4 linked regions of the Homo sapiens genome follow. The protein of the gene in region 4 binds, or shares a complex with, the protein of the main gene of each other region. Each region holds a gene or a part of one and is shown on either strand. Other genes may lie near its edges. The genes, in order: TAF6, TAF5, TAF1 and TBP.

Evidence for each region.
Region 1: TBP (region 4) and TAF6 share a complex: the UniProt entries of both Homo sapiens proteins name them as parts of the TFIID basal transcription factor complex.
Region 2: TBP (region 4) and TAF5 share a complex: the UniProt entries of both Homo sapiens proteins name them as parts of the TFIID basal transcription factor complex.
Region 3: TBP (region 4) and TAF1 share a complex: the UniProt entries of both Homo sapiens proteins name them as parts of the TFIID-containing RNA polymerase II pre-initiation complex.

The regions. Positions count from the first base shown.
Region 1 is NC_000007.14:100,109,341-100,116,366, forward strand, and holds part of TAF6 (transcription initiation factor TFIID subunit 6), read right to left. Parts: intron 6,959-7,026; exon of another isoform or gene 6,506-6,958; intron 4,929-6,505; coding exon of another isoform or gene 4,870-4,928; coding exon 4,714-4,869; intron 4,615-4,713; coding exon 4,528-4,614; intron 4,430-4,527; coding exon 4,276-4,429; intron 4,066-4,275; coding exon 4,009-4,065; intron 3,578-4,008; coding exon 3,458-3,577; intron 2,914-3,457; coding exon 2,768-2,913; intron 2,660-2,767; coding exon 2,582-2,659; intron 2,490-2,581; coding exon 2,388-2,489; intron 1,982-2,387; coding exon 1,799-1,981; intron 935-1,798; coding exon 860-934; intron 734-859; coding exon 608-733; intron 1-607. UniProt on the Homo sapiens protein: The TFIID basal transcription factor complex plays a major role in the initiation of RNA polymerase II (Pol II)-dependent transcription.
Region 2 is NC_000010.11:103,377,968-103,384,993, reverse strand, and holds part of TAF5 (transcription initiation factor TFIID subunit 5), read right to left. Parts: intron 6,760-7,026; coding exon 6,444-6,759; intron 5,387-6,443; coding exon 5,223-5,386; intron 5,111-5,222; coding exon 4,975-5,110; intron 3,274-4,974; coding exon 3,153-3,273; intron 1,757-3,152; coding exon 1,627-1,756; intron 1-1,626. UniProt on the Homo sapiens protein: The TFIID basal transcription factor complex plays a major role in the initiation of RNA polymerase II (Pol II)-dependent transcription.
Region 3 is NC_000023.11:71,376,357-71,383,382, forward strand, and holds part of TAF1 (transcription initiation factor TFIID subunit 1), read left to right. Parts: intron 1-593; coding exon 594-835; intron 836-1,246; coding exon 1,247-1,465; intron 1,466-1,878; coding exon 1,879-2,097; intron 2,098-2,467; coding exon 2,468-2,675; intron 2,676-5,386; coding exon 5,387-5,563; intron 5,564-6,179; coding exon 6,180-6,307; intron 6,308-6,404; coding exon 6,405-6,512; intron 6,513-6,634; coding exon 6,635-6,808; intron 6,809-7,026. UniProt on the Homo sapiens protein: The TFIID basal transcription factor complex plays a major role in the initiation of RNA polymerase II (Pol II)-dependent transcription.
Region 4 is NC_000006.12:170,550,553-170,557,394, reverse strand, and holds the start of TBP (TATA-box-binding protein), read right to left. Parts: upstream 3,027-6,842; 5' UTR 2,932-3,026; intron 514-2,931; 5' UTR 366-513; coding exon 312-365; intron 1-311. Other genes in the region: PSMB1 (proteasome subunit beta type-1), read left to right, coding at 4,153-4,265. UniProt on the Homo sapiens protein: The TFIID basal transcription factor complex plays a major role in the initiation of RNA polymerase II (Pol II)-dependent transcription.

The sequences.
Region 1 (7,026 bases), on a different chromosome or scaffold from region 4:
AAGAAAAAGAAAACATGGGCACTAATGTGTGAATGAACTTGCTAAATACTGTGGCAGGATGGTTAATCAAGAGCGCATTTGCCTTGTACAGAGAAGACCACAGAGTAACAGGAGCATTGGGGAAGGATGGTCCAAATGCCACAGGCTGAGCGTGTTAAACCCTTCTTTTTTGGGGGGCGGTGGTCTCCCTCTGTAACCCAGGCTGGAGTGCAGTGGCACGATCATAGCTCTCTGTAGCCTTGAACTCCTGGGTTCAAGCAATCCTCCCACCTCGGCCTCCCTAGTAGCTGGGACCACAGACACGTCACCACTCCCGGCTTTTTGGTTTTTTTTTTTGCAGGTGGGATCTCGCTACGTTGTCCAGGCTGGCCTCATACTCCTAGGCTCCCAGAGTGCTGGGATTACAGGCAGAAGCCATCATGCCCAGCCCCCTTATTTCTTACTCAGTCTAATCTCAGTCTTTCCATCTGTAAAATAGTATCAGACTCTGCAATGTCCTCTGAAAACATGAGGCAAAGATGGGAGTAAGTGAATAAAATATGCCATATGCTTGCTAAACACTGCCTGTGTCTCAGTGGGCAGGTGTGGGGACAGGGGCTTCAGTCACCAGCAGGAGGCTCTGCACATGGTCTGCTCCAATCCGGTCAATGTTGCTCAGCACAGGGCCGTCCAGCACACTGCGGATCCGCTCCCCTTCCTGCTGCAGCCGGGGCAGAATCAGAGTCTTGATAACCTGTTAGAAGGGAAAAGGACAAGCAAAAGCCGGAGGGTCACCAGGGTCTCCCAGATGGGGGTACAGTGCCCTCTATAACCTCATGACTGTGTCCCCTCCCCCATTTCTTCCTCCCAGAGGCCTAACATCGTGTCCCAGCTCAGCCAAGCCTGCGATGGAGCCATAACGAGTCGTCCAGGGCGTCTTCTCGTCCACCCAGCTCTGTAAGGGGAAGGAAATAAACTAAGATGAAGGGGTCTGAAAGGATGATTGACAGGGACCTAAGTCTTTCATAGACACTTTCCTTGTAAATCATTAAGACATTACAATGAGGCCAGACGTGGTGGCTCACACCTGTAATCCCAGCACTTTGGGAGGCCGAGGCAGGCAGATCACCTGAGGTCAGGAGTTCCAGACCACCCTAGTCAACATGGTGAAACTCTGTCTCTACTAAAAATACAAAAATTAGCCAGTTGTGGCCAGGTGCAGTGGCTCATACCCGTAATCCCAGCACTTTGGGAGGCCAAGGCAGGCAGATCACCTGAGGTCGGGAGTTCTAGAGCAGCCTGACCAACATGGAGAAACCCCGTCTCTACTAAAAACACAAAATTAGCTGGGTGTGGCGGCACATGCCTGTAATCCCAGCTACTCGGGAGGCTGAGGCAGGAGAATCATTGGAACCCAGGAGGCGGAGGTTGTGGTAAGCCAAGATTGCACCATTGCACTCCAGCCTGGGCAAGAAGAGCGAAACTCCATCTCAAAAAAACAAAAACAAAAAAATTAGCCAGTTGTGGTGGCAGGTGCCTGTAATCCCAAGTACTCAAGAGTCTGAGGGAGAAGAATCGCTTGAACCCAGGAGGCAGAGGGTGCGGTCAGCAGAGATTGCACCACTGCACTCCAGCCTGGGCAAGAGCGAGACTCCATCTCAAAAAAAAAAAAAAAAGGTATTACAGACAAGCCTCAAGACCCTTAGACCCCCACAAGTTCCAGTCCCTCTTCCCTCTGCCCCCTTGTTTCCAGTGTGACTTCCCCCAACCAGAGGTGGCCAGTGATGAAGCAAATGACGCTCAAGTTTTCCTGGCTCACCTTGGTGAAGGTCTTGGTGATCCGGGACTGGATGTTGTTAGTGGTTGTGCTAAAATGCTTGCAGATCTGGGCCACCAGGCGGGCAGCAAAGTCTCGGAGTGCCCAGTGATTGTCCACATCTGGTCGCAGGCACAACTGTCTGCTCACGATGCAGGTCATCACAGCTGGAATCAGCTCATGGACCTAAGGGAGAAAGGGCGGGACAGCTGATTCTGGTTTTGTTTGTCTGCTTGAGATAAAGTCTTGCTCTGTCACCCAGGCTGGTGTGCAGGGACACAATCATGGCTAACTGCAGCATCAATCTCCCGGGCTCAAGCAATTCTCCCATCTCAGCCTCCCAGGTAGCTGGGGCCACAGGTGTGCACCACCATGCCTGGCTAATTTTGTTTTGGTTAATTTTTTTTGTAGAGATAGCAGTCTCACTACTGTCCTCAGGCTGTCCTCAAACTCCTGAGCTCAAGCAATCCTCCCACTTCGGCCTCCCAAAGTTGCTGGGATTTCAGGTGTGAGCCACTGCTGACCACTGACTTCCTGTTGGTGGCAGCAGGGTCCCTAGTCCCTGGAAGGGAGGATGGGCAGGATCACTCACGTATTTTTCTAGATAGAGCGTGGGGTTGTCCATCAGCGCTTTCACCATACGCATCAGGTAGATGAGTAGGGCCAGGTTGTTCTGAACCACGTTCACACGGACCTGTGGGAGGGAGAAGTGCTGGGCATGGGGCAGGGAGACCCTCACAGGAGCTTCCACTGCCGTCCCTGCACTGTGGAACCTCATGCTCTCACCCCCTCCGAGATAAAGGTACTGAACCGTGGCAGCATCTGATACAGTCCAGGGTCCGTGGCAATGCTTTGCAGGGCTTCCTGTGGGAGGAGGGAAGCCAGTCAGGTGGGGGTGGGATGTGGGGAGCAATTCATAGGGCCCCCAGGAGGAGGCGTCTCAGGGCCAGGGCAAGCTGGTGGGGCCCTCACCGCCCTCTTGGCCTCGCAGGAGCCCACGCAGGCCTCGGTGATCTCCTTGTAGTAGAGCTGCTGCTCCACAGACAACTCGTGGATGCTCCGGGGCTTCAGTCGCAAGGGGGCCCCCTCCAGCAAGGGCGGCGCCTTCTTCTCTTTCCCTGTGTGATTGGAAAGGTGGGTCTGACAAAGAAAGCTCCAGAAGAAACCTCAGTAACAGAAGAACCTTAACCCTCCACTTCCCCTGAGACCCAGGAGACCTGGCTTCTTCTTAGGCTCCCCCATCCTTTCTGGGGCTCTGGCCCTGACCTCAGCCACTTCACCAATGGCCACATGGAGGCCTGGCATGGTGGCTCACACCTGTAATCCCAGCACTTTGGGAGGCCAAGGCGGGCGGATCACATGAGGCTGAGTTTGAAACCAGCCTGGCCAACATAGCAAAACCCTGTCTCTACTAAAAAAAATTACAAAAATTAGCCGGGCGTGGTGGTGGGCACCTGTAAGCCCAGCTACTCAGGAGGCTGAGGCAGGAGAATCGCTTGAACCCTGGAGGTGGAGGTTGCAGTGAGCTGAGATCGTACCACTACACTCCAGCCTGGGTGACAGAGTGAGACTCTGTCTCAAAAACAAAAAAAAAGGAAACAAAACAAACGGCCATGTGGCTTTGGGCAAGAGTCCAGAGAGGCCTAGCCTAGGAGGACTGACCTTTGCCGTCGGCTGTGGTGGCCCCTTGACCTTTGCCCTTCAGGGGTCCGTCTTCCTCCTGGCCTGGCTTGGCTGACTTCAGGGGTTCTGTGGCTTCAGCCTTCTGTTGCTCTTTGGGAGCTGGTGGGAAAGCAGGCACAGCGGGAGGGGTGATGAGCATAGTAGAAAAGTAAAAGGTGGGAGGAGGCCGGATGCGGTGGCTCATGCCTGTAATCCCAGCACTTTGGGAGGCCAAGGCGGGTGGATCACCTCAGGTCAGAAGTTCGAGACCAGCCTGGCCAACATGGTGAAACCTCGTGTCTACTAAAATTACAAAAAATTAGCCGGGCGTGGTGGTGTGTGCTTGTAGTCCCAGCTACTCAGGAGGCTGAGACACAAGAATCGCGTGAACCCAGGAGGCACAGGTTTGCAGTGAGCCAAGATTGAGCCACTGCACTCCAGCACTCCTGCACTCCAGCACAGGCAACAGAGTGAGACTCTGTCTCAAAAAAAAAAGGTGGAAGGAAGGGGAAAGGGACCCAGAGACCCAGAGGGTGGGGCATGGAGGTTACCTGGGGGCGGGTTCTCGGGGATAGCTGGCTGGCAGCCCTCGATGCTCAGCCAATGAGCTGCAAGGAAGGCAGGTGTCAAGGTGAATTGCCACGCATGGACATTGGGGAGTTGCCCCATGCTATGGAAGCGTGTTTCCACTCCTGCTCCCCTTGCAACTCACCAGGGATCTCACACTGAGCTTTTCTTCTATTGTGAGGCTCCTCACACCTACACACATCTGTCCTCCTTTCCCTCCTCCCTGCCACCCTGCTCTCCCCTCCCCCAACCTTTGAGGCAGACGTCCAGGGGCACCCGGGGCAGAGGGGTATTGATGATGTCGCTCAGATCAACCTCCTTCTCCTCATAGAAGTAAAGCTCCCGGCCCCCACCAGAGGCGAAGCGGAAAGGAATGAACTCCTGGGCGTGGAAGCCATAGAGTGGCTGTGGCAGGAGAGAGGGGCATGGGTAAGAAGGGAGCCGGAGGAGACCTGGCTGAAGGATGGCGTCTCACCCCCCCCCCGCCTGTCTCCCCAAATCACCTCGACATTCTTTAGCTTCAAGGCGTAGTCAATGTCACTGGTGGTGAGCTTCTGCCGCTTCCCCATGTGCATGAACTTCAAGGCATCCTGGGGTCGGTGACAGAACAGACATCAGCCCAAAATCCTAAGGACGGGGCCCTGGGTGACATGGACCCAATGTAGAGCTGGACAGAAGGGCCGGGTCACCTGTGCGATCTCTTTGATGCGGTAGCTGACCTCATCCGTTAGCAGCTGGCAGGTCTCCTCCTGAATCTGGGCGATGCCCATGGATTCAGCCACCACCTTCATGGACTCCGAGGGCAGCACAGTGTTGCTAAGCTTCAGCTTCTTCTCCTCAGCCATTCTGGAGTCCCTCTTCTCCTCCCTGGAAGGATGAAGCCCCCGGTGGAGAGACGGAGACCCTGGCAGAGGAACGGGGCAGGCAGAAGAAAAAGAAACGTGAGACACAGGGAGAGGGCCAACAAAGGGAGGACAGTGGAGACAGGGGAGGAACTCCGAGTGTCTTATGTCCATCCCCACGTGAGTCAGCCCTGAGGTGTAACAGAGAAAGATACAAATCTGGGCTGGGGCCAGGTTCAGTGGCTCACGCCTGTAATCCCACCAGCACTTTGGGAGGACGAGGCGGGCGGATCACTTGAGGTCAGGAATTCGAGACCAGCCTGGCCAACATGGAGAAACCCCATCTCTACTAAAAATACAAAAATTAGCAGGGCGTGGTAGTGCACACCTGTAATCCCAGCTACTAGGGAGACTAAGGCACGAGAATCACTTGAAACCAGAGGGCAGAGGTTGCAGTGAGCCGAGATCACGCCACTGCACTCCAGCCAGGGTGACTCCGTCTCAGGAAAAAAAAAAAAAAAATCTGGACTGGGCCTAGTGGCTCATGCCTGTAATTCCAACACTCTGGGAGCCCAAGGTAGGAGGATCGCTTGAGCCCAGCAGTTCACGACCAGCCTGGACAACACAGTGAGACCCCATCTGTACAAAAAATACAAAAATTAGCTGGGTATGCAGGCACAGGGCTGTTGTTCTAGCTACTCAGGAGGCAGAGGTGGGAAAACTGATAGAGCCCAGGAGCTCCTAGGCTCAAGCAATCCTCACACCTCAGCCTCCCAAGTAGCTGGGACTATAGGTGTGTACCACTACACACAGCCAATTTTTTGCAGGGGCAGGGGCAGAGACAGAGTCTCACTATGTTGTCCAGGCTGGTCTTGAACTGCTGGGCTCACGCAGTCCTCCTGCTTCGGCCTCCCAAAGTGTTGGAATTACAGGCCTGAGCCACCAGGCCCAGCCCAGATTTTTATCTTTTTCTGTTACACCTCAGGGCTTCAATCCCACCACTTTGAAGTTTTGGGCTCAAGCAATCCTCCAGCGTTGGCCTCTCAAAGTGTTGGAATTAAAGGCGTGAGCCGAAGTGTCTGGCCCAGGCTCAGCTTTCCTTATCTTCATAGCAATGCCATCCATCCAGACACTTGTTCTTTATCTGAGCCTTCACATCAAATCCACCAGGTAGGCCAGGTGCGGTGGCTCACGTCTGTAATTCCAGCAATTTGGGAGGCCAAGGTGGGTGGATCACTTCAGGTCAGGAGTTCGAGACCAGCCTGAGCAACATGGTAAAACCCTTTCTCTACTAAAAATACAAAAATTAGCTGGGCATGGTGGCGCGTGCCTGTAATCCCAGCTACTTGGGAGGCTGAGGCAGGAGAATCACTTGAGCCTCGGCAGTAGAGTTTGCAGTGAGTTGAGATTGCGCCATTGCACTCCAGCCTCAGTGACAGATGGACTCTGTCTCAAAAAAAAAAAAAAGGTAAAAAAATAAATCCGGTCGGGCGCGTTGGCTCACACCTGTAATCCCAGCACTTTGGGAGGCCGAGGCGGACGGATCACCAGGTCAAGAGATGGAGACCATCCTGGCCAACATGGTGAAATCCCATCTCTACTAAAAATACAAAAACTAGCTTGGCGTGGTGGCACGCACCTGTAGTCCCAGCTACTCGGGAGGCTGAGGCAAGAGAATCACTTGAACCTGGGAAGTGGAGGTTGCAGTGAGCCAAGATCGTGCCACTGGACTCCAGCCTGGCGACAGAGCGAGACTCTGTCTCAAAAATCAATCAATCCACCAGGTAGTCCAACCTGACTCCTCTGCTCCCACTGCTTGGCCCAGGTCACCATCATCTATCCACTGGGTAACTCCAAAAACCTCCTAACAATGTCAACCGGAGTCTACCCTTGCCTTTCTCTACATCTATTCCTAACGTTGCAGCCAAAATGCTTCTGTCAAACTGTAAAGCAGATTGTCATTTCTTTGCTCAAACCCTCATAATGGCTCTCCACTTGCCATAAAGTAAAACCTGAAATCCTTATAATGGGCAGGTGCAGTGGCTCAGCTCATGCCTGTAATCTGTGCACTTTGGGAGGGTGAGGTGGGAAGACTGCTTGGGCTTAGGAATTCCTGACCACCCTGGGCAACATAGCAAAACCCCATCTCAGGCCAGGCAC
Region 2 (7,026 bases), on a different chromosome or scaffold from region 4:
TTGAGAAAGTTTAAGAAATGTGATATGTCACTTAAAACTCAACAATTTTTGACCCTAAAATAAAGATGCTATTTTCCCATGCTGTGTAAGCTATGTAAGAATTAAAAAGGAAATGTCTTTTGAAGAAAAAGAAAAAAAAACTACAGACATGCTAATAATTCTCTACCTTTTTCAAGCATAAACACAAAAGATTGATAGTCAGAAGGTTATTACAATTTTCACTGAAATCAGACGTTTCCCTCAAAAATGTATCATCTGGCAAAACCTTATCAAGCAACAAAAAACCTAATTCTCAAAGTTTCGTAATGATGAAACCTTGATGGATGGAAAGCTATTATCTTTTTTTCTTTTCTTCTTTTTTTGAGATGGAGTTTTGCTCTTATCACCCAGGCTGGAGTGCAGTGGTGCAATCTCGGCTCATTGCAACCTCTGCCTCCCATGTTCAAGTGACTTTCCTGCCTCGGCCTCCCAAGTAGCCAGGATTACAGGTGGGCGCCACCACACCCTGCTAATTTTTGTACTTTTTAGTGGAGACAGGATTTCCCATGTTGGCCAGGCTGGTCTCAAACTCCTGATCTCAGGTGATGCGCCTGTCTTGGACTCCCAAAGTGCTGGGATTATAGGCGTGAGCCACTGTGCCCGGCCTGAAAGCTATTATCTATCCAAGTAATATACTGATGGTATTATGAATACAAAACACCCTCCACCCATTTTTACAGTGTTAGAGATCATGAAAAATAGGCAAATACCTATACACATAGGATGACATTGTAATCATACACCTAAAGGGAAGCAAACCAATTTTGAATTTCCTTTTTCATTTACTCTTAGTACTTTTGATTATAGAAAGATTAATCCTCAATTACTAGCTAATATGCCATTAATGTCAGGAATTTGTCTTAAATTTGATGAAGCAGCCAGAAGACACAATGCAGGGACCCAATGAAGCAATTCAACCCCTAATGGAGTTCTATAAAACTAAAGCTTTGGTTGGTTATTTACCATTGGGTAACAAATAAAAATAATTAAAAAAAAAAAAGGGAAATACTAAAGCTAATTTTTAAAACCAGTAAGCCCTGAAACTGTGCATTTTGATTCTATAAATTTGAGTATACAGGCCAGGCACAGTGGCTCACGCCTGTAATCCCAGCACTTTGGGAGGCTGAGGTGGGCAGATCACCTGAGGTTGAGAGTTCAAGACCAGCCTGACCAACATGGAGAAACCCCATCTCTAATAAAAAAATAAAATTAGCCAGGTGTGGTGGCGCATGCCTGTAATCCCAGCTACTCAGGAGGCTGAGCCAGGAGAATCGCTTGAACCCAGGAGGCGGAGGTTGCGGTAAGCCAAGATCACGCCATTGCACTCCAACCTGGGCAACAAGAGCGAAACTCTGTCTCAAAAAAAAAAAAAAAAAAGTGAGTATACATTAAATTGCTACCATGTACAAACACCAGGATTCAAAGATGAATTAGCAAATGGCAAGATTCTAAAAGATGATGAACGTCAGACAACCATGAGATTTTTATCAGAATTTTCCCAGCATTTGCATAATGTTTCCAGTAGTTAACTTTTATATAATTTCAATATAACATAGCAGTATTTAATTTTTATTGTTTGTATTTTACCTATCCGGACTGAAGCTGGCTCCGTAGACAGGCCCACTGTGACCATACAAAATCTTCAACTCACTTGCTGTTTTCTCATCCATGATTCTTTCTAAGACATCATCTGATTCTTTGTCTATAAGACTAAGATCTAAAATGGTCCAGAAATATTGATATTTTATAAGTACATTCATCAAAACTTTTAAAGTAATCATATCACAGTGCAGGAGAGGAATTAACATTTGAAAATTTCCTCCTATATACCAACCGCACTTTGCTAATCCCTCTAAATTAGGCAGTATCATCTCAGCGTGTAAGAGAAGAAAATGACGTTCAGAACAGATAATTTGCTAGAGTGCACACAGCTACTCAGTGTGGGAACCAGAACTGAAACTCAGTTTTGCCCACTATGCCACAGTGTTTCACAAAATGAAAACTATGGGCCAGGCATGGTGGCTCACACCTGTAGTCTCAGAATTTTGGTAGGCCAAGGCGGGCAGATTGCTTGAGCCCAGAGGAGTTCGAGACCAGCCTGGACAACATGGAGAAACCCTGTCTCTACAAAAAATAAAAAATTAGCCAGTGTGGTTGCACACACCTGTAGTCTCAGCTACTCAGGAGGCTGAAGTGGGAGGATCACTTCAGCCCAGGGATTAGAGGCTGCAGTGAGCCGTGATCACACCACTGCATTCTAGCCTGGGCAACAGAGTGAGACCCCATCTAAAAAAAATTTAAAATTAAAAAAAAAAAACCTATGGAAATATTGAAATAATTTAAAATATATTGTTTTATTTAAATAATATAGTTAGTAAAAAACTTTATTTCAGGCCGGGTGTGGAGGCAGGAAAATCGCTTGAACCAGGGAGGTGGAGGTTGCAGTGAGCCACCTATAATTCCAGCACTTTGGGAGGCCAGACAGGCGGATCACTTGAGGTCAGGAGTTCGAGACCAGCCTGGCCAACATGGCGAAACCCTATCTCTACTAAAAATACAAAAATTACCTGGGCATGGTGGTGGGCACCTGTAATCCCAGCTACTGGGGAGCTGGGGAGCTGACACAAGAAAATCCCTTGAACCTGGGAGGTAGAGGCTGTAGTGAGCCAAGACTGCGCCATTGCACTCTAGCCTGGGTGACAGGGCGAGACTCTGTCTCAAAAAAACAAAAAGTAAAAAACTTTCAAATAAAATCCTGACCTTATTTGTTCTTTTTAGCCATTTTTATGACTAAAACAGGAAGTACCATCCCTTATTTAAAGATTTTTTAAGATTTACAAGCAATCATAAAATGTTAGATTTTTAACTTTAAGTTTTTTAGCTTAATACTCACTCATTCTACAGATGAGAAAACTGAGACCTAAAGAAATTAAACCAGTCTAGCACCCCAGTCACTCCAAAGCTTTTTTCACTGTTGGGAATGTTAGAATCTTGAGTTAAAGTAAAATCAAGTGAATTTCTGTAAAGAACACAATCTCCTGTGTATTTTCCATGGAATCAAGATTGGTATAGACTAATGGCAAGTTCACATTCCAAAAGGTCATCTCAGTTACCTGATGCTTGTTTGACACTACGAAGCTTTTTGGGTGTTACCGACCACACTCTGACAGTTGAATCTGCAAAACCTCCAGCAATCAGACTAGAATCATCAGTGACATCCACTGCAGTGAGACCCTGCCAATAAAAGGGTTAGACTAAACAATACTATTTTAGGATATTTAGAGATAGGAAGCAAATGTTAATCATTTTCACACTATACTAAATATCTCCTCAATCCTCTATTTTAAGGAATATATAAAGACTTTTAAAATTCTTGATTTAAAATATTGGCCAAGCGCACTGGCTCATGCCTGTAATCCCAACAATTTGGGAGGCTGAGACAGGTGGATCACCTGAGGTTAGGAGTTCAAGACCAGCCTGGCCAACATGGTGAAACCCCATCTCTACTAAAAATACCAAAATTAGCCAAGCAGGGTGGTGGGCACCTGTAATCCCATCTACTTGTGAGGCTGACGCAAGAGAATCACTTGAACCCAGGAGGCAGAGGTTGCAGTGAGCCAAAATCGTGCCACTGCACTCCAGCCTGGGCGACAGAGTGAGACTCCATCTCAAAAAAAAAATAATAATAAAATAAAATACTAAGTTTGGCCGGGCGCGGGGGTTCATGCCTGTTATCACAGCACTTTAGGAGGCTGAGGCGGGTGGATTGCCTGAGCTCAGGAATTCAAGTCCAGCCTGGTCAACCTGGTGAAACCCCTTCTCTACTGAAAATACAAAAATTAGCTGGGCGTGGTGGCTCATGCCTATAATCCCAGCTACTCAGGAGGCTGAGGCAGGAGAATCACTTGAACTGGGAGGCGGAGGTTGCAGTGAGCCAAAATTGCACCACCGCACTCCAGCCTAGGTGTCAGAGCAAGACTCCATCTCAAAAAATGAAATTAAATTAAAATAATAAAATAAAATAAGGTTTATATGGCTGGGCACGGTGGCTCACGCCTGTAATCCCAGCACTTTGGGAGGCTGAGGCGGCCAGATCACTTGAGGTCAGGAGTTCAAGACCAGCCTGGGCAACACGGCAAAATCCTGTCTCTACTAAAAATACAAAAATTAGCCAGGCATGGTGGAGGGTGCCTGTAATCCCAGCTATTCAGGAGGCCGAGGCTGAGGCACAAGAATCGTTTGAACCCGGGAGGCAGAGGTTGCAGTGAGCTGAGATCTCACCTCTGCACTCCACCCTAGGTGACAGCACAAAACTCTGTCTCAAAAAAAAAAAAAAATTGATAAATAAGTTTACGTAAGTACTTAAACCAAGTTCAACAGAAATGAACTACAATTTGCTCCTCCTCAAAGGCTAGCAGAATTCTGATCGGTGAAACAAATGCCATTAAACATTGACTTCTATCTATTCTGTGCAGTATCCAATTCTCTCTTCCTGAATGCTGTCTTTAAATTGTATAAGAGTTTAGGGGCCACATGCGGTGGCTCATGCCTGTAATCCCAGCACTTTGGGAGGCTGAGGCAGGCGGATCACAAGGTCAGGAGATCGAGACCATCCTGGCTAACACGGTGAAACCCCATCTCTACTAAAAATACAAAAAATTAGCCGGGCATGGCGGTATGCGCCTGTAGTCCCAGCTGCTGGGGAAGCTGAGGCAGAAGAATGGCATGAACCTGGGAGGCGGACATTGCAGTGAGCTGAGATCGCGCCACTGCACTCCAGCTGGGCGACAGAGCGAGACTCTGTCTCAGAAAAAAAAAAAAAAGGAGTTTAAATAACGAAACTCCATTTTAGCTAATACATTTGTTTCTCTCTTAATGGTAAATCATCATCCTACATGACTCTCCAGGCAGAAATCGCCCAATTTTTTTACCAACCTGGTAAGCATTGAGAAATGTATAGAAACAAATGGAGGGTAAGCAGTCCGGCCCAAGGCGCACTCGTTTGGTGGTTTCTTTCATATTCATTATCTTATCCAACTTATCTGAATCTTTCAACTCAGGAAGAGGGATTCTGTGAAAGAAAAAGAGAGTCAAAATTACCTTTTGACTATTAACAAACTTGAACTCTATATAACATGTTGTCTTATACCTCCACACACAAGTTCCTGAAGTTTTTTCCTCACCTGTTCTGAGGTGGAGCATTGGGATCTTGTTTTTTGCTTTTGGATCCAATACTATCTTTTTTAGGCTTCTTCTTTTTAGGTTTTCCTTCTTCATTTTCTCCCTCTTCATCCTCGTCATCCAAAGGTACCTCAATTTCTGGTTCTTTTAATAAACCAAAAAATACCTACAAGTCAAAAGAGCCAACATTTTTAAAATTATTTATTCATTAATATACCCATTTTACATCTTGATAGGATAAATCACAATTACAAAATAGTAATTTACACTCTGAAGCAGGGTTCTGTATTTGTCTACCCAATAGCCATTCTCCCCTTTTTCCTTACTAACAGAACCCTGATTTTATTGGAGTAGCAATGTGCTCAGTTAAATCATTTCTGTTCCCAGGCTCCCTTTCAGCTAGGAATGTCCATATAAGTATACTGGGTATGGTTGTATCAAAAAAATATTGTTTTCCTGATTAAAAAGGGAAAGCTTCAGCAGAGATATGCCTTTTGTCCTCCCCCTTCTTCCTTCTTGGAACGGAGCTGCAATGCTGAAACTGCAACAGCCATTTGTGAGCACAAAGAGGAAAGCCACATTCTGAAGATGGTGGATCAGAAACCAGAAGGAGCCAGGGACCTTGATGGCACTGTGGAGCCTTCATGCCAGCCCTGGAAGGCCTTCCTCTGAAATTCATTTTATGGGAGAAAAATTCTTTGTTTCAGCCACTGCATTCAGGGTTCCATAAAATGCAACCATACCCAAATTGTCACATATAAACATCACCCTTAGAACACAAAATTTTATATACAGTATAAAATTGTTTCCAAGCGGCCAGGCGCAGTAGCTCACGCCTGTTATGCCAGCACTTTGGGAGGCGGAGTCGGGTGGATCATCTGAGGTCAGGAGTTCGAGACCAGCCTGGCCAACATGGTGAAACCCTGTCTCTACTAAAGTAAATACAAAAATTAGCCAGGTTGGTGGCGTGTGCCTCTAATCCCAGCTACTCGGGAAGCTGAGGCAGGAGAATCACTTGAACCCAGGAGGTGGAGGTTGCAGTGAGCTGAGATCACGCCACTGCACTCCAGCTTGGGTGACAAGAGCAAAACTCCGTCTCAAAACAAACAAACGAAAAAAATTGTTTCCAAGCTAGCTATAAGAAAAATGTGTAACTTATGTAGATGGAAATGCTACAATTTTTCATAATCTGCATTATAGAGTTCTTAGGTTCATTCCCATACCTTTGATTTGTTTGCCTCTCGTTTAGCCTCTCCTGCCAAACTTCCCACCATCGCATCTATCTGTTGCTTACTACGCGGCATCCCATCAAAGATGTCAATGTAGAGGTGCTCCTGAACTATGTTCCATATCTGATTGTTCTGTTTCTCCTGAAGATGCCTCTTCAAGAGTTGGTACGAGTCACGGGAAATACGCAGAACAAATTTACTTGTTCGAAAATCCAACATGGTCTCATTCCCTTTCATGTGTTCCTTTTTGGTAAGACTAGATAATACTCGTAGGTCATCCTGGTAATAACATTCCTGATCTCCATGGAACCTGTTTCAGTGATTTTAAAAAGTCATTTTTCAATGTAATCATTAAGGGATCTGCCTTTCCCCCATATACTTATAAACCATCCCAGAATATTTTCAATGTAGTAGTCTAAATAATCCTGAACTAAGCTGTAGGATAAGAAGTAACTCATTTCAAAATGACTATAATTCAGTTTCTGAATTTATTCTAAAAATGAACAAATGTAATTCTCTAATGAAATGTATCACAAACATTTTAAGAAAAGAACTTAAATATCCTAAGTGAAAAATA
Region 3 (7,026 bases), on a different chromosome or scaffold from region 4:
GTTACAATATTGGTTACTTATCAGAAAGTAGGGCCAGGTGTGGTGGCTCACACCTGTAATCCGAGCACTTTGGGAGGTGGAGGCAGATGATTTGAGGTCAGGAGTTCAAGACCAGACTGGCCAAGATGGTGAAACCCCGTCTCTACTAAAAATGCAAAAATTTAGCCAGCTGTCGTGGCGCATGACTGTAATCCCAGCTACTCAGGAGGTTGAGGCAGGAGAATCACTTGAACCCGAGAGAGAGAGGTTTCAGTGAGCTAAGATCTCACCACTGCACTCCAGCCTGTGCGACAGAGCAAGACTCTGTCTCAAAAAAAAAAAAACAACAAAAAATCGGAAAGTAGTAAATGTAGTAATAGTGTTTGTTTTCTCATCACAACCCTAGGGTACCAGGTACGTGGTGAGTTGGGGGACGATGGGAGATAACGAGTTAGAATGAGTTTTCTGGGTTGCATACTAGTATTATGATTTGGGTGCTTGGGCCTATATCTCCTGGCATTGAGCCATGTGTATAGCCTAAAGTGGGTGTTTGCGGAATTCGAGGAAATATGTTCACAGTTACATGCCAAAGGGGTTTCTCTTCCTTGTTGCAGTGTCTGAAAATGGAGAAGGCATCATCTTGCCCTCCATCATTGCCCCTTCCTCTTTGGCCTCAGAGAAAGTGGACTTCAGTAGTTCCTCTGACTCAGAATCTGAGATGGGACCTCAGGAAGCAACACAGGCAGAATCTGAAGATGGAAAGCTGACCCTTCCATTGGCTGGGATTATGCAGCATGATGCCACCAAGCTGTTGCCAAGTGTCACAGAACTTTTTCCAGAATTTCGACCTGGAAAGGTACATTCTGTGGAGAATGCTCAGATTGCAAACCACTGACCTCTTCCAAATAATGAGTTTTGTTGTTAAGATGCTGAGTATGGAATGGGGTTTCCTTACTCAGTGACATATTATTGGCTACATAAGAGCTCTTCACACTGTATTAGGTCTTTTTTTTAAAGTTGTATGTATTGATAGTAAATGTGATTTATGCTGTTCTCATTGGAAATTTCTCTGTTATCTTAAAAGAACTAGCCCAAATTATTAAGGAACGCTTCTTTACTTTCTTAGACGTTACAAGTCTGAATGCGACACTCCTTTGTTTCTCCCCCACATTTGAAGAGATCTCTCAAGGGAGTTTTCAGGCCCAGATGCTGCTGTTTTCCCATCTGACTTTGAGTCTGTGTCATAGTAATGTATTCTGTGTTCTAGGTGTTACGTTTTCTACGTCTTTTTGGACCAGGGAAGAATGTCCCATCTGTTTGGCGGAGTGCTCGGAGAAAGAGGAAGAAGAAGCACCGTGAGCTGATACAGGAAGAGCAGATCCAGGAGGTGGAGTGCTCAGTAGAATCAGAAGTCAGCCAGAAGTCTTTGTGGAACTACGACTACGCTCCACCACCACCTCCAGAGCAGTGTCTCTCTGATGATGAAGTAGGCAAAATAGAGACCTGAGATTAAGGCCTATGAGAGGAACAAATGAATTCAATGAGTTCTCCCTAATTTATGTCTAAATTGTAAATAATACCATAGCAGATAGAATCTGTGCTAATTTTCAATGAGTAATCATGGGTTCAATCTCAGTGGCTGCCCCTTCCCTATTGTAAAAGAAAAATGTTTGGTGGGGTAGGCGGGGATGAGAGGGGTAGATGGTGATATGCTGCTGAATAAGAAGGTTTGATTGATAGGTGGAATGTGCTATGATACATCTCCATTGTTTACATTCTAACTCCAGGTAAATCATCCTCAGTTTCTCTAAGTTCCCCTCCTGACTGTTAACTCTCTATAGCCTTAGGACATCTGGGATCAGGAAATTCTCCCTGCTCTACTTCTTTCTTCTGTTACAGATCACGATGATGGCTCCTGTGGAGTCCAAATTTTCCCAATCAACTGGAGATATAGATAAAGTGACAGATACCAAACCAAGAGTGGCTGAGTGGCGTTATGGGCCTGCCCGACTGTGGTATGATATGCTGGGTGTCCCTGAAGATGGCAGTGGGTTTGACTATGGCTTCAAACTGAGAAAGACAGAACATGAACCTGTGATAAAATCTAGAATGATAGAGGTGAGCAACACTGGTATGTAAGAAAGGAATCAATGTACTCAGGTCCTATTACTTTTACTAACTTTACTCTTTAATTGGGGAGATACTGGGTGGTAGGGTTTCTTTGGTGGGAGATTGAGGTGTCTCAGCCTTTTATTTGGTATGGTGTATCACCCTGGTAGCTAGGTCCTATTCTAAGGATTCTGTTTGTGAAATGAATGCTGTGCCAGACTAGGAGTGGGAAGAGGCAAATATTCCTCCGTTATCAGGTGGTTGTTTCAAGTAAAGGACCACTTACAATGTGTCTGATGTATCTTTAATGTGGAATTTGGAGTGGAAACCTTGACCAGTGACCAATCAAGGATGTGTTTTTTCTTCCCTACTTACACAGGAATTTAGGAAACTTGAGGAAAACAATGGCACTGATCTTCTGGCTGATGAAAACTTCCTGATGGTGACACAGCTGCATTGGGAGGATGATATCATCTGGGATGGGGAGGATGTCAAACACAAAGGGACAAAACCTCAGCGTGCAAGCCTGGCAGGCTGGCTTCCTTCTAGCATGACTAGGAATGCGATGGCTTACAATGTTCAGCAAGGTGTGCTTCTGTGCCAGCTGTGTCTAGCAGATACTGCCCTTAATCTTAGTCACCATAAGTGGGCTCAGCTGTGATTTTTTTTTTTTTTTTTTTTTTTCGGTGAGACAGAGTTTCGCTCTTGTTGCCCAGGATGGAGTGCAATGGTGCAGTCTCGGCTCACTGCAACCTCCGCCTCCCCAGTTCAAGCGGTTCTTCTGCCTCAGCCTCTGGAGTGGCTAGGATTACAGGCGTGCACCACGATGTCTGACTAATTTTTGTATTTTTAGTAGAGATGGGGTTTCTCCATGTTGGTCAGGCAGGTCTCGAACTCCCGACCTCAGGTGATCACCCGCCTCAGCCTCCCAAAGTGCTGGGATTACAGGTGTGAGCCACCACGCCCGGCTGGCTGTGATGTTCTGAGCTGCCAAGAGATAGTGAAATTTTTAGGATCTGAGGCCTAATTCTAGTCCCTGTAATTTTTATTTTATTTTTATGCTCAACCTGGAGGAAGATAGTCCATGTAATTTTTTGCCCTGTTAAGAAGCTAGGCCAGACTCAGGTTTCTTAAAAACATGTGATAAAGATCTTTTTTTTTTTTTTTTTTTTGAGACGGAGTCTTGCTTGCTCTGTTGCCTGGGCCGGAGTGTAGTGGCGCAATCTCAGCTCACTGCAATCTCTCCCTCCTGGGCTCAGGCGATTCTCCTGCCTCAGCCTCCCGGGTAGCTGGGATTACAGGCATGCGCCACCATGCCCATCTAATTTTGTATTTTTAGTAGCGATGGGGTTTCTCCATGTTGGTCAGGCTGGTCTCGAACTCCCGACCTTAGGTGATCTACCTGCCTCAGCCTCCCAAAGTGCTGGGATTACAGGCATGAGCCACCACGCCTGGCCTGAAGTTAAAGATCTTTCTGAACTATAACAGTACTTTATAGTATATTTTTGTTCCCAAGTCCCTTTGTATTTAGAATTCTAGTTTCCTATTTTTCTCCTTAAATAGGTTTTTTTTTTTAAGGTATGCCATGATTAATGTAAAAAACTTTGAAAATACAGTATAGTGTTAAAGTCACTGGTAATCTATCTGGAGATTATCAACTGTTAAGTTTTGGTGTATTTTCAGTGTTCTGTGTGTGTATGTAGTTGAGCTCATTTCCGTATGTACAGTTTTGCATACTGTGCTTTTCACTTACTAAATATTTTTCTCTCTTTCATTTTTTATTTTTCATTGTTGAGACAGGGCCTCACTTTGTTGCCCAGACTGGTTTCAAACTCCTAGACTCAAGTGATCTTCCTGCCTCGGTCTCCCAAAGTGCTGAGATTACAAGCAAGAGCCACCCCACCCAGCCACATAAATATTTTTGTGTCATTTAGAGTTCTTTATAAAAATGTTTAATGACATGGGAAACTCGTTCATTTTATTTTAATTAAATTATTATTTTTTGTAGAGGTAGAGTCTTGCTATTGTTGGTCAGGCTGGACTCCTGGGCTCAGGTGATCCTCCTGCCTCAGCCTCCCGAGTAGCCAAGACTTCAGGGGCATGCCACCACGTCTGGCTTGAGAAACTCATTTTAAATGGAAATAAAGAAGATATGAAACAACATATATGATATCCTATTAGTGTAAATGAAAAAAAGCAGACTATATAAACATAGAAAGCTGGATTACTTTTATATTTTGGAGGAAAAACAAAATTTTTTCTTTTTTGAGACAAGAGTCTCTGTCGCCCAGGGTGGAATGTGTTGGCGCGATCTTGGCTCACTGCAACATCTGCCTCCCAGGTTGAAGTGATTCTTGTGCTTCAGCCTCCCGAGTAGCTGGGATTATAGGCGTGCACCGCTGTGCCCAGCTAATTTTTGTATTTTTAGTAGAGACGGGGTTTCACCAGGTTGGCCAGGCTGGTCTTGAACTCCTGACCTCAAGTGATCTGCCTGCCTTGGTCTCCCAAAATGCTGGGATTACAGGCGTGAGCCACCACACCCGGATACAAAAATGTCTGATTTTTAAAACCTAAGAAATAGGTTTTTTCCCTTCCATTCTGCCCACTTTATGGGTTATATATTACTATTACGAATGTTTCATAATTTACCGATAACATGTTGCATTTGTTAATACAATTTATTACCATTTATTGTTAGCATACTTTACCATATCATTTATTGTCATAATTTAACCAATTCCTTCTTAAACATTTAGGCTATTTAAATTTCAACTATTATAAACAGTATTGCAGTGGACATTTTTGACTGCAACATTATTTTTATTTATTTATTTTTTGAGACAGAATTTCACTCTTGTTGCCCAGGTTGGAGTGCAATGGCACGATCTCAGCTCACTGCAATCTCTGCCTCCTGGGCTCAGGTGATTCTCCTGCCTCAGCCTCCTGAGTAGCTGGGATTACAGGCATGTGCCACCACACCCAGCTAATTTTTGTATTTTTTGTAAAGATGGGGCTTCTCAATGTTGGTCAGGTTGGTCTTGAACTCCTGACCTGAAGTGATCCACCTGCCTCGGCCTCCCAAAATGCTGTGATTACAGGTGTGAGCCACCGTGCTGAGCCTGCAACATTATTTTAAAGTGAGAAATACACTGTGTAGGTTCCTTTTCAGTGGACACATGAATAACTCCACTAACTCGCTCTACTAACATGAGTAACTCTTTTTATCTTTGCCAGAATCTTGATTGAAAGGGGCATAAATGTTTTCTCTGTTACTATTTCCTCCTTGCACTTTGACTAGGTTTTGCAGCCACTCTTGATGATGACAAACCTTGGTACTCCATTTTTCCCATTGACAATGAGGATCTGGTATATGGACGCTGGGAGGACAATATCATTTGGGATGCTCAGGCCATGCCCCGGCTGTTGGAACCTCCTGTTTTGACACTTGATCCCAATGATGAGAACCTCATTTTGGGTATATTACTGGCAGAGGCCAGTGTTTCTTCTCCTTTGAAAACTTGCTGTTAATGTCAACGGGCAGGAGGAAATCAGAAGGGTTGGAGATGATTAGGACTAGAAACCTGTAGGTAGCGGCTTGAGAGAGCGAAGTTTTGGCTGTTAGTTTATATTATTTGTGTATATGCTTAGGGAACACTCACGTAGGAATGTTGGAAAGTTGCAACTTTGAGATGTCAAGAGCATAGTTTGTTCCGTTAGTGAATCATGGACTCGAAACTTCTAGGTAGCAGTTTGAGAGAGCAAAATTGTGGCAGTTAGTTTTTATTATTTGTGTATTCCCTAGGGAAAACTCATGTAGGACTGTCGGAAAGTAGTACCTTTGAGATGTCAAGCGTGTAGTTCACTTAGTGAATCATGTACTAGAAGTGATTTGGGATGGGATGAAAAGATACAGGTGTAGTTCAGTTAGTAAATCGTGGACTAGAAGTTACCTGGGGGGGGGTGGGATGAAAGGTCTAGTTAAGACCTTCACTGGAACATCCGTCACCTTAAAGAAGAAAACTGGATACTTGTCTGTAGGAAAGGTGAATCTTCAGGGAGAGCAACTCAAGTGATTTTTGTTTTATTCTCAGAAATTCCTGATGAGAAGGAAGAGGCCACCTCTAACTCCCCCTCCAAGGAGAGTAAGAAGGAATCATCTCTGAAGAAGAGTCGAATTCTCTTAGGGAAAACAGGAGTCATCAAGGAGGAACCACAGCAGGTGTGTGAAGAAAAAAGGGGCTTGGTGTTTAGAAGAACAAAGAAAGGTAATAGAGAAGGATAGTCTGACCGAGATTTGTTTGATTATCTATCATTAGAACATGTCTCAGCCAGAAGTGAAAGATCCATGGAATCTCTCCAATGATGAGTATTATTATCCCAAGCAACAGGGTCTTCGAGGCACCTTTGGAGGGAATATTATCCAGGTACAAATAGTGTCTTTTCTGTGATAGAGGAGAACCCCATGGCTTTGTTCTGACGGAGGATATGGGAAAATCTTGCTTAGGATGGAATTAGCTAATTTTAACCCTTCTATTTCCTGTTTTAGCATTCAATTCCTGCTGTGGAATTACGGCAGCCCTTCTTTCCCACCCACATGGGGCCCATCAAACTCCGGCAGTTCCATCGCCCACCTCTGAAAAAGTACTCATTTGGTGCACTTTCTCAGCCAGGTCCCCACTCAGTCCAACCTTTGCTAAAGCACATCAAAAAAAAGGCCAAGGTATAATTGAATTCTGGTTAGAAAACAGCTATAAAGGATATTGGGGTATAAATTAAGGGAATGTACCAGGTATTAGATTGTATTAGGGAATTGGTTATTTTCTCAGATGTGATAGAATGTTATTTTGGTTATTTAGGAGAATGTCTTTATTGTTAGGTGATGCATGTGAAAATATTTAAAGGTGAGGTGTCAGAATGACTGCATCTTTCAAAAACTGT
Region 4 (6,842 bases):
AAAACTAGAAAATAATTTGGTGAGGGTGATTTTCAAAATCAAAGACCCTATATAGTCATTTGGAACATTCTCATAAGTGTTTATCAAAAGATTAGGTGTTTCATAAATATATAACTTAGCTTCCAGACTTCCCAAATAAACACCATTGTGCCTATTCAAAGCCTAATAGAACTTCTCAACAAAATAAGGCTTAAAAAACATATTAAACCATTTTCAAAAACAGATCATTAAATGCCCTTCCTTGCCTTTTGATACCATCTCTTGCAGTTCAGATTTCCGCCCTCCCTATTCTCTCCCTCCTGCTATATTACCTGAGGGGAGGCCAAGCCCTGAGCGTAAGGTGGCAGGCTGTTGTTCTGATCCATGATGTTCACTTTCTTCTTGGCAAACCAGAAACCCTTGCGCTGGAACTCGTCTCACTATTCAATTTTTTCCTAGAGCATCTCCAGCACACTCTTCTCAGCAACTTCCTCAATTCCTTGGGTTATCTTCACACGCCAAGAAACAGTGATGCTGCTTTGGAAAAAAGTCTAAAGTTTAATTTAAGGATCCAGGTAACCTGTACAGTCCTATAAGCCAGTTCTATGGCTATACAAAACACAAACATGAAAACCAATGAAGCTATTTTGGAATACATTTGTTTTTACCTTATAATCCTAAAGTTTTATTCCTTCCATGTTTCCGGCGATTGCATGTAAAATCGCCAACAAAACAAAAATCATTTTGTTACATGTTTAAATAATCGGAAAATGCTCAAAATCGAGCTGTCATAACCAGCATTAAAAACTTTTGAGGAAAAACACCTAGAGAAAAATAATTCCTAAGCAAAATGTAATATCAGAGCAGAATATTCACTAAGCACTGTATACACAGCACTGTTAGGCAAAGTTTAGATCTTTAAATATTCCAATTTTACATCCTCTACAATGTCTTGGGCAAAAAATTAAGTAAATATCAAATTCAATCCAATATACTTCAGAGTGATCATTTATCAAGCTCCTACTGTAATGAAACTGTTAAAAAAAAAAAAGCCGCACAAAGATAAAGCCCTGAATTTTTATAAATGTAATAACCTTACCTCTTTAGAACACATTAATGCAAACTGTGCCTGTTATCTGACTTTTCTTAAATCATCATCGCTTTACTCACTACACATCTGAAATGAGTTTATAACAACATATTCTCACATAGAACTTAGAGGTCTCAAAGTTACAAATTATATGTCCAAAGATCCTTCAGGCATATGCACTTCAAGCATGTGCTGGTACAGAACAGACACTCAGATATTTGCTGAATGTATGAAAGACTCTGACGATCACTTTGAAAGGGCAAAGGCCCCCAAAGACTATCTATCCTACATACTCATCACTGAAAAACAGACCAAAAAAGAAAGCAAGCTCTGCTTCTGGAAATAAATATATCAGAGATATTTTTTAAAATATACTTTTTTTTTGACAGTTATCCTATAATAACAATAACAGAAGTCCTGCAGATGAGGATATAAAGATAGGAGGATATAGTCCTTGGCATCAAAGTGTTCAATATGAAGGGTATGCAAATAACTACTGTAAAACATAGTATTATAACAGCAGGTATGGTCTAAGCTAAGTTCCTTGAATGCAGAAACCAGCCTACATGTCTTTGTGATCTCTGCATCTAGCACTATGCCTGGAATACAGTATGTGATCATGAATGAGCCCATATACACCCCTGGAAGAGAAGACAATATAGACTAACAGCCAATCACTGTGAAGAGAGCGCAGTGTTTTCACAAAGCAGGGACCATCTAACTTGGGTCTCACAAGGTGAGTAGGAATTTACACATCAGGGCTTCAGACAAAAGAGAAATCAAGCAGAAAGAGACAGATTGAAAAAGCATGCAGTATGCAGGCAACAAGCTTAGTATGACTGTATAGAAGGTCACTGCAGCAGATGAGACAGCACATATTGGTGGGCTCATACTATCAGGAGTTTTCAATGTTATTGCATAGGCAATAATAACAGTTATGGAATTTCGGAAGTGCAGTATGAACAGATCTAATTTGGCAAGACTAGATGAATTTGAGAGGAGTAAAACTGGAGGACGGAAGTTTCGTTTCAGGAATCTAAGGTTGAGGCAAGAGATAATGACGGCAGGATTTAAAGCCATTATAAGTATGATTAGAGATTTATCCAGGACCTTCGGTGGCTTCAGGCCACTTTTTGCAAGTAAGTCTACAGAAGAAACCGCACAGTGATTACTGCACTAATTTATCCTCAGAAAAGAGTTGTTTGCTGGGTATCTTCATCTCCTGGAAATTGAAACATCAAATCCGATATTTTTTGGAGGCAATCAAATTAATTCTGCATAGCCTTCTAGTGTCTGTATAACTAAATGAAGCACAGTCTTTTCACAGAAAAGTCTACCTAGAGATTTGGAAAACCATGATGGCCTGAACCGAGAGACGGGAGACCCTGCAAATAAAGTGGTGTGTATTATATCTTAAGCGCTACCGTGCCCGCTGTCTCAGGCTTCTGACAAAATATTTAAGTCTCAATGTTGGCAGCAAAACAGGCGGGCACAGATCTGGGTGAATCTGCTTCTAACATGGAGAAGAAGCGGATGGCAGGACAGGGCAGGGTAAACTTAGGGTCTTCGATGCAAGGGACTGTCCTGTCCCGCCTGCCGCCGCCCAGCCAGCCAGTAGTACCCTGAGCCCCACAATCGTACGATGGGAAGCTGCCTGCGAAACACAGCAGAGTAGGGCACCAGGCGGGAGTGGCGGCCGAGTGGCCGTTACAGGCCGGAACGGCGGCAGCACGAAAGGGAGGAACGTCCCCCGAGGGGCCTGCACGCGCGCCAATTCCTAGTCTCTTCCCCACCATTGCCCCCAGGCCTCAGTGCAGTGGTGGCCTTCGCCCGAACCGTCAGAAAAGAGTACAATCTGTTACCTGGGTCACTGCAAAGATCACTATGGGCCAGCGGAAGCGAAGTTAAACAGCCGGCGGCCCAGGCGCCCGCCACAGCGAACCTGCCCGACCTCACTGAACCCCTGGCGCGCGTTGATAATGTCACTTCCGCCAGTTCTGCCCTCGGCTTCAGCGAGTTGCTCCCACTAGGGCCGAGGCCATGAGAAGTGTGAGCATAGGTCACTTCCTGTGTTTCCATAGGTAAGGAGGGGCGAAGCTCTTGAGGAGTTCCGGGGCGGGGCCGCCGTGCCACAGCCATCTCTAATTGGCCCTTGCTGGACGTAGGAAAGATCGATTTTTAAATGGCGTGTGTGTGTATATGTGTGAGTGTGTTTTGTTGTTGTTGTTGTTGTTGTTTAAAGCAACTAGCGGCGTTACCTTCGACAAGTTACCTGACCTCTCCCCCGCATTTTTTTTCTGTAAAATTGAATAATGATAACAGTGCTTACCCTTGGGCTGTCGGGAGATTGACAGAGATTGACAGAATCAGTGCCTGAGCAGTGCTTGGCACTCAGTAAGCGCGTCCTCCTTACCTGTCAGCAAGAACGCTAGCTGATCTTCAAGCGTGTAGAATGACAAGGAACACTAAGCAAAACAAACAGCTTGTGTTTACACATGCATTTATATTCAGTTCTGCCACTCCCAGTTCATGCACTGTTGTCACATGGCTCTTTCCGCAGTTGTTTCTTAGTGGGACTTCAGCACGCCTTGATTTTCCCTTCTGTAGTTCATTGTGGCGTAATCATATGTTATACTGCTTGTTTTCTTTGTACTTTTTATTATCAGTGAGGTTGTGAGCTCTTTAAGGATAGGAAATGTTATATACATTTTTTATTAGCCAGGACAATTAACGTTCCCACCGTTATTCGAGTTGCCGTTGCGCCATAGTTCTGACAATTTTTTTGTATGGTCAGACTTAAATTTTTGTCCATTGGGGTGAATTCCAATGTTTTCTTCGAGGGGGAAAAAAACAAAAAACAAACAAAAAAAACCCTTTACATCCCTGTCAGCGCTTTTTGGAATGGGCGGGATTCAACTACCAAAGGGACAAGCCGCCGTGCAGCCCTCCAGGAGCAACGACTAGCGTGAGATAGAGAGGCCGGGAGCGAACTTCAGGAGAAGCCGGAAGTGGCGTAACGTCCGGTCAAGGCAGCCATCTCGCCGTGAGACAGCAAGTGTCGGATCCGCAGGCGCAGCCGTGCGATGTTGTCCTCTACAGCCATGTATTCGGCTCCTGGCAGAGACTTGGGGATGGAACCGCACAGAGCCGCGGGCCCTTTGCAGCTGCGATTTTCGCCCTACGTTTTCAACGGAGGGTAAAAACCCCAGAGAGCTGCGGCTTTCACTTTCGCCCTTCCCCCATCTGCTGAAGCCTATTTAGGAGTCACCGCCGTGATGGCGCTGCCCCGGGCTCCTGCAGGCCTCAGAACCCTGAGCTGAGGGGGTCCGCACAAGGCCGGTCTCCCTGCCGTCCTCTCATGCCCTGTGTTTCCCTCTTCAGGCTCGCTTTGCTCAAGTTTACTTGGTGATTGCGATACAGCCTTGGTTTTTAGGGTTTCCCATTACAGTCATGTCATTTGAGTTTTTATGTGGACCGCCACTCCGTGCTCCTTGCTGCTGTAAGACAGTAAAGTAGAAATTGAAACATAGCCTCTGCTCTGTGGAAGACCATTAAAACTGGACCTCATGTACACGTTTCTTATGCCAGCCGGCGAGGGTAGAGGGTTAGCGTCTGAAACTTAAAAGTTAGGGTTGTTTGGTCTGTGTTGTTAGATGCATAGCTGGGTTGGTAGCCGAGATGTCTAATTGTAGCCGCCTGATTTCTGTTATTTCTAATTGTAGCAGTTTAATCATTTTGTTTTATTTCAAATAGAAGGTGGGATTGGCTGAGCAAACTTAGTTTCATAGATAAGTGCTTTTTTTTTTTAACGTTTAGCTTAAGTTCAGGAAAACAAAATACTCAGAAGATGGACCTTTTAGTATGTGTGTTCTTGTATGTTATGTTCAAGTTTTGGTTTTTATTTTAATTACCAGCTTTATCTTGAGTAGTATAATTTTCCGTGGTGGCACGCCAGAGATTTAGGGTTATAGAAAGATGCTCTGTTTAAGACTCTTGACAGGGAAGAGCTGTAAATTGAAACAGTGGTTATAGTTACCAATCAAGCCTTGTACATTAAAATATACACACGCAATTTGAACGAACCGATGGTTCTTAAAACAGAAAATATTGGCTGGGCAGTGTGGCTCGCACCTGTAATCCCAGGACTTTGGGAAGCCAAGGCAGGAGGATCATCGCTTGAGGCCAGGAGTTGAAGACCAGCCTGCGCAGCATAGCAAGACCCCATCTCTACAAAAATAAATTTTAAAAACAAAGCAAAAATGTTAATTGGTTCCTCATAAATTTGAAATATAAATGCACATTTTGGGAGTGTGTTAGAAAGATAACGAAAGTCTGATTTTAGCCTTGGTTCTGCCACTAAAGGACACTTTGGGTACTTCTGAACTTCTTGAACCTAAATTTCCTTATCTTCCTTAGTAGCTTCATAGTTTTTGGTGAGAATCAAGAGAGATGCATTTTGTAAATTGCAAGCTGTCATCTTATTTAATCCTCATGAAAAGTGAATGTTAGATGATATTAGCATCCTAGGGTTATATTAGACGTTAAACTGTCAGGGTCAGAGAGCTGGTGTGAAGTTGAGCCAGGACTTAATTCATAGCTATTTCACCACTGAGTTTATGGATGCTTTTCCATTATACACCTTAACACTTCCTGTGATGACTAATTAAGTTGTATATTGTAGGGAGGGTTATTGGACCCGTTTCGTAAGGCTATTCTCTATAAATAAGAATTTTCAGTGTTCAGTATGCCCTACTCGTTACTCACTTTTTAATCCCTTGTAATCCAGTTTAAGCCATTACTGCCCTAAAAATTACTTAGATCTTTCTGATTACTTTTTCTCAGTCATTGTTCTTTTTCTTTAGTGTTTACTGCAGCTGGCTCTCAGGCAGCCTTCGCTTCCGCAAAATGAGGCCTCATTCTCTTTTCCTACTCTGTCTTTAAATGTAGTTAAGTCATTAGCCGCCTTGTTTATCGCTCAGCACTCTTTCATGTCTCATTGCTGGGAGGATTACTCCCAAATCTGGTTTTCCAGTTCTGCCTCTCATGAGTCCCTCGATTCGGCTTCTTCAGTAAAACATTTTTAACTGGTTTTTCTGCTCTCAGGGCAACTCAAGACAGCTAGCAAAACAAAAAGCAAGCTAATTATTCCCCTTCATCTCCTCTTCTCCTTTCTTCTTATTTTTTGAGACAGAGTCTCACTCTGTCACCCAGGCCGGAGTGCAGCGGTGCGATCTCAGCTCACTGCAACCTCCAACTCCTGGGTTCACGCATTTCTGCCTCAGCCTCCCGAGTAGCTGGGATTACAGGTGCCTGCCACCACGCCTGGCTAATTTTTGTATTTTTAGTAGAGATGGGTTTCACCATGTTGGCCAGGCTGGTCTCGAACTCCTGATCTCAGGCAATTGACCCCCCCCCCCCCCCTCAGCCTCCCAAAGTGTTGGGATTACAGGTGTGAGCCACCGTGCCCGGCCTCCTCTCCTTTAAAATACTTATAATTATGCCATCATTCTGTTCATCTAAGTTCTAAATCTTGGATGTCATAATTGGTTTTCCCAGTTCCTAAAACATTTGCGTAGATATAAAAATTTGTCTATTTTGTGTGTTTGTGATGATTTTGGATTTACTGTTCACCCTGCTACCTTACTATTGCATTAGTAGTATTAGAACAGTGTTTCTGTCCCATTTCACATACTATGTTATTGTCAGAGCAGTCTTCCTAAAACCCCACTTTGTAAATGGAACTTTTCTCTCTCTTGCATTCCTTTTTTAAAGA